Linked DNA regions of Homo sapiens. The protein of the gene in region 1 interacts with the protein of each later gene in a biochemical or structural test. Each region holds a gene or a part of one and is shown in the gene's direction. Other genes may lie near its edges.

Region 1 (3,067 bases):
TGGTTTCTGCCACTATCAAAGTTCCAGCTACCTGCAAGGTGAAGGAAGGCATCCCTTTTGGGGCATGCACTTTCTTTCCTTTCTCAAAATAATGTTATATGTGGCCACACTGATGTTCACCTTTACGTCCAGGGTCTTTGTGCCTTGTCTCTACTCCCTCTCTTGGATCTGGGGAGGAGGGGCAGAGACCTGGGACTCTGTATTTCTATAGTTCTCCTGGCAGAGCCTTTGAGAATGGGGAGAAACAGCCTGGGCTGGGGCTACAGGTCTGTCACTATGCTCTCTTGCCTTCAGACAGACCATTCTGAATTCTCTAAAGGGAAAGGGCTTTTGCATCTAATCACAATAGAGTTGAAAGAGAGGCCTTAGGATTCTCCTCTCTCTAGGTGCTGAGCCCTCACCTCCCTGTTCCAGGCTGAGAACTCAAATGGTTACCCTGCTTCTTCCTACAATGCTGTGTGATATGGGTGAACCCAGCCCCTGACCTTCCTCTATCCCCTGCCCATCCTCCCTTTTACCTCCTCTCTTTTTTAAACACCTGTTTATCCCAACCTTTTTGAGCTCAAGCTGTGATAAAGAAGGGCCCATCCTATTTCCCCTCATCTAGTCCATTTACGATTCTCACTGACTCCCCGTCTTCCTGGCAGACACAAATAAACCCAGTGTCAGGTCTAGGAAATTAATGGCTATTCTTCCCCAGATACATTCTGGCTTATTTGAGATACATGATTCTCTTAGAATCCTGTCCCTTGGTTCAGGAAAGTAGCTTGGAAAAGGAGTAGGGGTATAGCTTGGGTCCCTTTTCCTGCAAGGCCCCATGGGGCAGAATATAATAAATATTCTGAGTGAGGAGTGTGGTCTTTTTCTGATCTTCCTCAGCTTCCGTAAGTTGCAGAGTGAGGTATATTAGGAGACTAGTTCTACACAATATTGTAATGCTGGGTTCCATCAACACCCACCTTCCACAACTCAGTCTGCACCTCAGTTGGCAAAGGAGACTGGATGGCCATCTTTCCTCATGTTCCCTTGAGTATTTCAATGTAGAAAGCCCTTCAAGTGGTATTATATTTTAACCTTTTACATTATTGTTATTAATGTTAGTAATATATTGTTATGTTTTCTAAATTATTTTTCTTTAAGCTGACGTGGCTTTTTTTCTGTGGCTCCCAGTGGGTCTACGGACCTTGGCTGACATATGTTGGTAGGTACTCTGGTCAGCTCAGCTGGCTGTCCTGGTTCACTCAGAAGATAAGTCTCTCCAAAGCAAATTCACATGCATTATGAGTCGCTTTGAGCTTCTGACATGTCACTTGCCCCGAGGTTAAAACTTTTCACCCCTTGAAGACCTTACATGTTTTATGGTATTGGTGAGGAAGGAAATGTTCTCAAGGTCTCAGGCTATTTGGGAAATTCCAACTCCTATACCTTACCAGAGCATGGAAGAGCCCAGATCTGAATGTAAAACGTCTCTGTTCTGCCAGAGATGGAAAAAATACAGGTATACTTGTGATATAGTCATGGGGCTTCAGTGTCACTATTTTCTCCTTAAAGCTCCAGCCAAAAACTGGACAAGGATAGAGAGGAGGAGGGAAGAACAAAAGAGCCCTTCTCTATGAACCTTGTGCCTTCTGTCCTACCAGTTTTCTTTTACAGATTCTCACTTCTGCTAGCCTAGCCAGGGCTTACTCCAGGAATCTAAATAGATGCCCTAGTCCACTTTATCTTTGTTCCCAAGGCACTCATTTTTATTTTGATTTTGATTGAATGTGAGCAGGTTGACCTCAGGTCACACTTTGTTCCAAAAACTTTTGGAATTATTCCAGGACTTGTGGTGGAGTTATGGTACTCTAGGGCAGTCTTTCTCAAACTATGTATGGTAAAGGACCAGGTTTTTTGTTTTCCAGTCCTTCACTTATCAATATGCATTCCTATTGCCCATGACAGGTATGGAGTTCACACTGTGTGCTGCCGACCCGGCAAGTTTGACAGCACCCAAACTGGCCAGACTGTTCTGTAGGTTAAGTCCATTGATCATGTACTTGGATATCACAGCAACATTGAAATGCTAAAAAGTTTTTAAACACTCTCAATTTCTAATTCACCATGTCACAGACTGGTGAAAAAAAAAAAAAGGTGTTCACTGACCAGCACAAGTCTGCAGATCATCTTTGAGTAGCACTGTTTTGGGGCCCTCGGTCTCTCTGAAGACCCTAGCAGAACTGATACCTACCTGTATCTCTTGTTCTCTCCTATTTGAGTTTCACTTCCAGAGAACTTGTTCTTCAGCAAGAATGTGTCACTAGTAAGGACATCTCTAGCATTTCTCTAGCCTTCCTTTTCTGCTGCTCAAAAATAATCGTTACAAAGCTTAGGTTTAAGCTGTATATGAAATATTTATGCGACTCTCAAACTTTAAAGGAGTTGCTCCTTTGTTCCAAAATTAAATGTGTTAGATAAATTTGTGATTGTATGGGTGGCTTCATGAATTAAGAATTGAATTAATACAGACTTTTTGATAATTGGGACATTTTCCTGTGACTCTGGAAGGTCTTGTCAAAGCCCCATGAGGCAGTTATAATATGATGTTAAGATGGCTTTGGGGAGCTAGGAGAAAACATTGGCCCATATTGAATGACGTGGAGACGGCAGACCATACAAAAAAGGACCAAAAGACTTAGAGGAAATGGGTATGCAAGAATGAATGTTATATAACACTGGTAAACCCACCAGCTGACTACCCCAGAAAGACCTGGGAATTATTTTTTAATAAAGACAATGGGAAAGGCACTGATGAAGGGTTACCAGCATCTTTGAGAAATTTAGAAGTGGCTGTCTCTCTAGATCGAAGCTGATACAAGATGTAAAAGAAACTGTTTTCCTAGTAGCAGTGGGGGAATGATAGGATCCTGACATAGCAGAGGCCAGGTGGCAACACTTAACTCTCAGAAGCAAGGTGAGTAAATTTCCTTAAGGGTAGCAAGGTCAAAGTGGAGATGGCTAACGGAATGTGAGTGGTCCTAGGAGCAGGATAGATGGGCAACCAAGAAGAGTATTGTCTTATATATAA
Region 2 (3,541 bases), about 66 Mb from region 1:
TAGATAGTCACTATAATTTACAAAGATATTCAAATGAGGCTTACATTGGTGCACGTGTATTACTTATTCTGGTGCTTCAGTAGTGCCATTCTCACTATGTCAGTTCTTTTCAACTCAATGTGAAATGCTCAAAACCTGAAAGTAAACCCAGTTTAATTCTCTTTATTTTCTTTCCTCCTCCCTCCCTCCCTCCCTTCCTTTCTTCCTTCCTTTCTTTTCTTCTTTCCTTTCTGTCTTTCCCCCTTCCCTCTTTCCTTTCTTCTCTTCTTTCCTTCTTTTCCTTCCTAAATGATATAGAAATTTTAGGTAAAAGCAAGGATTTGAGAAAAATTGGAATAATGGTAAAGGTGCCTTGTTCCACAAAATACATACCTGATTAAGGACCTTTTTTTGCCAGATACTGAGCTAAGTGTCATGAGGGATGCAAATTAATTACAGTTTTTACCTTCAAGAACTTTAGGATGTAGATGATAGTCTACAAGTGATAAAATGAAGAGCATAGGATTTGAAGTCAGAGAGCCTGGGTTCAGGCACCAAAGTTTCTAGCCTCAGTTGCTTCCTTTGTATAATGAAGTTATTGAGCCTTACCTTCCTATCTCTTAGATTACCATGAAAATTAGACAGGTAGCCTATATGAAAGTACTTAATAAAATTCAGTGAAATTCTATATAACTGTGTGACTTTTAAAGATAGCTTTTATTATTTTATGGCATATTATAACTTGTCAATTTTTCATGAACTGAGCAGGAAATTGAATAACTAGAAATCAAAGGCATTTAAAATATAGCCAAGCCTTTATGTTTTCTCGGAAGTTCATAAGTATTATAGCCATAGGACATTGAGAGGAATTGAGAGCATTTGGGTTTCACCCTTCCTCTTCTTTTGGAGGTATAGACAAGTAGCAAAATAATCATCACGCCAGTGATCATGTGAAGGAGGGGAACACAACTAGAATGTGAGGGGCCAGGATAGCTAAGAAATAGTAATACAGAAAATGGAAACTCAGAAAGCTTTCTGAAAATAAGCCACTAAATAAAAACAGAAGGCTTTGTAACTGCTGTTGTGTCTTCAGAGGTTAGGATATATCGGCAGTTTTTATAGCTCTTTTTCCCCTCTACTAAATTAAAAACAAATAAAAAGCCTTAAGCTGGAGATTTCAAGCTGATTAGGAAATCAGGCTACAGGAAACAATACTGACTGACCTATGGAACAGTCTTGCATTTAGCACAGTTTAACCTACTGGTAGCTGAGATCCTTGGTCATGGAGTTACGGAAGCATTCTGATTTGTGGGATGCTTATAGATTTAGCTCCCTTAAAATAATGAGGAAGTCTGTATTTTACTTTTCATAAAAGACAGTACTATATTCACTCTTAGTTACTGACTTTTTTTCCCCCTTCTTTCCCATAGTACTACCTGCATATGGATGGCAGAGGCAACTATGAATTCAAACAGATAACAGAAGATACAGTTGAGTTTGGCTCTTAGAGAAATCTGGAGAACTATACCTGCTTCAGTGAAATAATTACAGAATATACTTAGAAAGGCAAAGTACATTGTAAAATAAAGTTGAGCTTAGTTTTTTTTAAAAAAAAAAACAAAGCAACAAATTAACTAGATACAGAATAATGGAGAACAAGTTGTTAAAACATTTAATATTATATAGGATATTGCTAATTGTGTATATGTTGGTTTAATTAATAATATGTACTAAGAATGTCCTTATTCTTGTGGTTAAAAACCTGCCTAAATTAAATTGGGCTTCAATCACTGTAACCTGATTCATCCTGGGATGTAAACCATTCGAAGTCAGCTAATTGGACTTTTATGGCTCTATCTTTTCCTTCAGTGAAGAACCCTATTTAAAACTGGGTCATCATTTGTCCTGTTCTAGCAAGATAGTCTTCAGTTTCATTTTCCTGTGCCCTGTGGTAGTTGGAAACAAATCATAATGTATTATTTAAATGTTTAACATCATTGCATAACAGCGTTTATTATACAGTGGCAGATTTCTTTAGCTGCCACAGTAATACTCATTCCTTGTGTGTGTCTTGGAGTGCATTTGACTCCAGGAAAAGCCATTTTGGTTTTCCTTAACTAAATGATAAATGTACCCCTCTCAGTCTGCAGTATTGAGTTGTTTAAAGTATATGTGCAGTCTTGCTTACAAGGAGGGGTTACCATGTATCACACCTAATCTTCCCAATGTTTGGGATATTAAAACACAAAGTCCTTAACATGCCAGGCTCAAGGTCTTATAAGAGTTCTAGATTTTTAAGAGAATTAGACAAATTTGTGTGTGTTAGAAGCCCATTCATTAGAAGTGTGGTGGTTATTTGGTATTAAACTCCAAATGAGCCATAGGAAGGCACTACATGAAATAATGCACTGAGTATGCAATGCTATCACTGTCTTTGACTGTGATTTTATGTTTAAAAAGTATGTTCTAAAATTATTATATATACATGGGTGAATTATGTTTCCGAGGCACTGTTTTATCTCTGTGAATCTTGAATAACTTTTTTATATTTGGGTTATGATGTCAAACGATCCTAAGCGAAGATGATTTCAGTTCATCAAATCATCATTAATGACTTTATGTATTATTTGCACAGGGAGAATTGAAACTGAGTATAATCAATAAGCTAGATACGAAATCAGTTTCTCAAACTGAGCTTCAGAAAGGGGCATTTTGTACTCTTGTTTTTGCATAACTGGTTTTGTTTTTTTGCAGAATTAACTATAACAATCACTGGCTACCGAAGTAAACTGATGTACTGAATTCCATAATACATAACATTCAATTTTTACCACTTCTGTTTAGCGAACTTGTATACTTATTTTCTGTTCAGATTAAAAAAAAAAAAAAAAAACTCAGATATCCTATACAACCTTTGCTTGTTCTTTTTATTCTGGTATCTAAATACTGAGAAGTTCATTTATAATTCAGCCTTGACTTGAAAACATAGATAGTTTAATCTTGACTTGAAAAACACAAAAATAAATTCAGAAAATGCTTTTAGCACAGTGTCTCTTTTTTAAAGTTTTGCCAAGTGTGGTTTTTAATTGAATGAATTTCTCTTTTAGAAAAGTTCAGTAAAATCTGTGTACCTGACAAATGCTACCAAACAGCCAGGAGACCTTAAAAGATACTATTCGTCTTGGAAAAGATTTTAAGGCATGGGAAAGTTTCAGATTTTCAGATTTCTGGGTTACCTTAAACCTACTCGTAGAAGTATTCTCCTAGCTGCCTTATAATTGCTTTTGTTATGATTCTTGCCATCAAAACAACAACAACAACAATTTGGGCTTTTTTTCTTAATTATTTTCTTTTTTATGTAACAAATATTACAGTGCCTCACCATTTGAGGCACAGAGGAAGATCCTTCTGGAGAATCACATTAACATAATAGTGGTTCTTCGAAGACCCACAGTAAAGAAATCCATTGGTTCAAAAACATGATTGACCACGGAACATCTTTTTCTACATAATTCCTATTAACACCTTCCAGAAACTGCAGTGGGAAATGGTAGTTTAATCC

Evidence for each region.
Region 2: the proteins of PEX19 (region 1) and ABCD3 form a complex in vitro, tested with the Homo sapiens proteins (4 studies listed by BioGRID and IntAct, with this or other methods).

Annotation. Positions count from the first base shown.
Region 1 is NC_000001.11:160,276,265-160,279,331, reverse strand, and holds the end of PEX19 (peroxisomal biogenesis factor 19), read left to right. Parts: 3' UTR 1-2,525; downstream 2,526-3,067. UniProt on the Homo sapiens protein: Necessary for early peroxisomal biogenesis. Acts both as a cytosolic chaperone and as an import receptor for peroxisomal membrane proteins (PMPs).
Region 2 is NC_000001.11:94,515,643-94,519,183, forward strand, and holds the end of ABCD3 (ATP-binding cassette sub-family D member 3), read left to right. Parts: intron 1-1,409; coding exon 1,410-1,487; 3' UTR 1,488-3,021; downstream 3,022-3,541. UniProt on the Homo sapiens protein: Broad substrate specificity ATP-dependent transporter of the ATP-binding cassette (ABC) family that catalyzes the transport of long-chain fatty acids (LCFA)-CoA, dicarboxylic acids-CoA, long-branched-chain fatty acids-CoA and bile acids from the cytosol to the peroxisome lumen for beta-oxydation.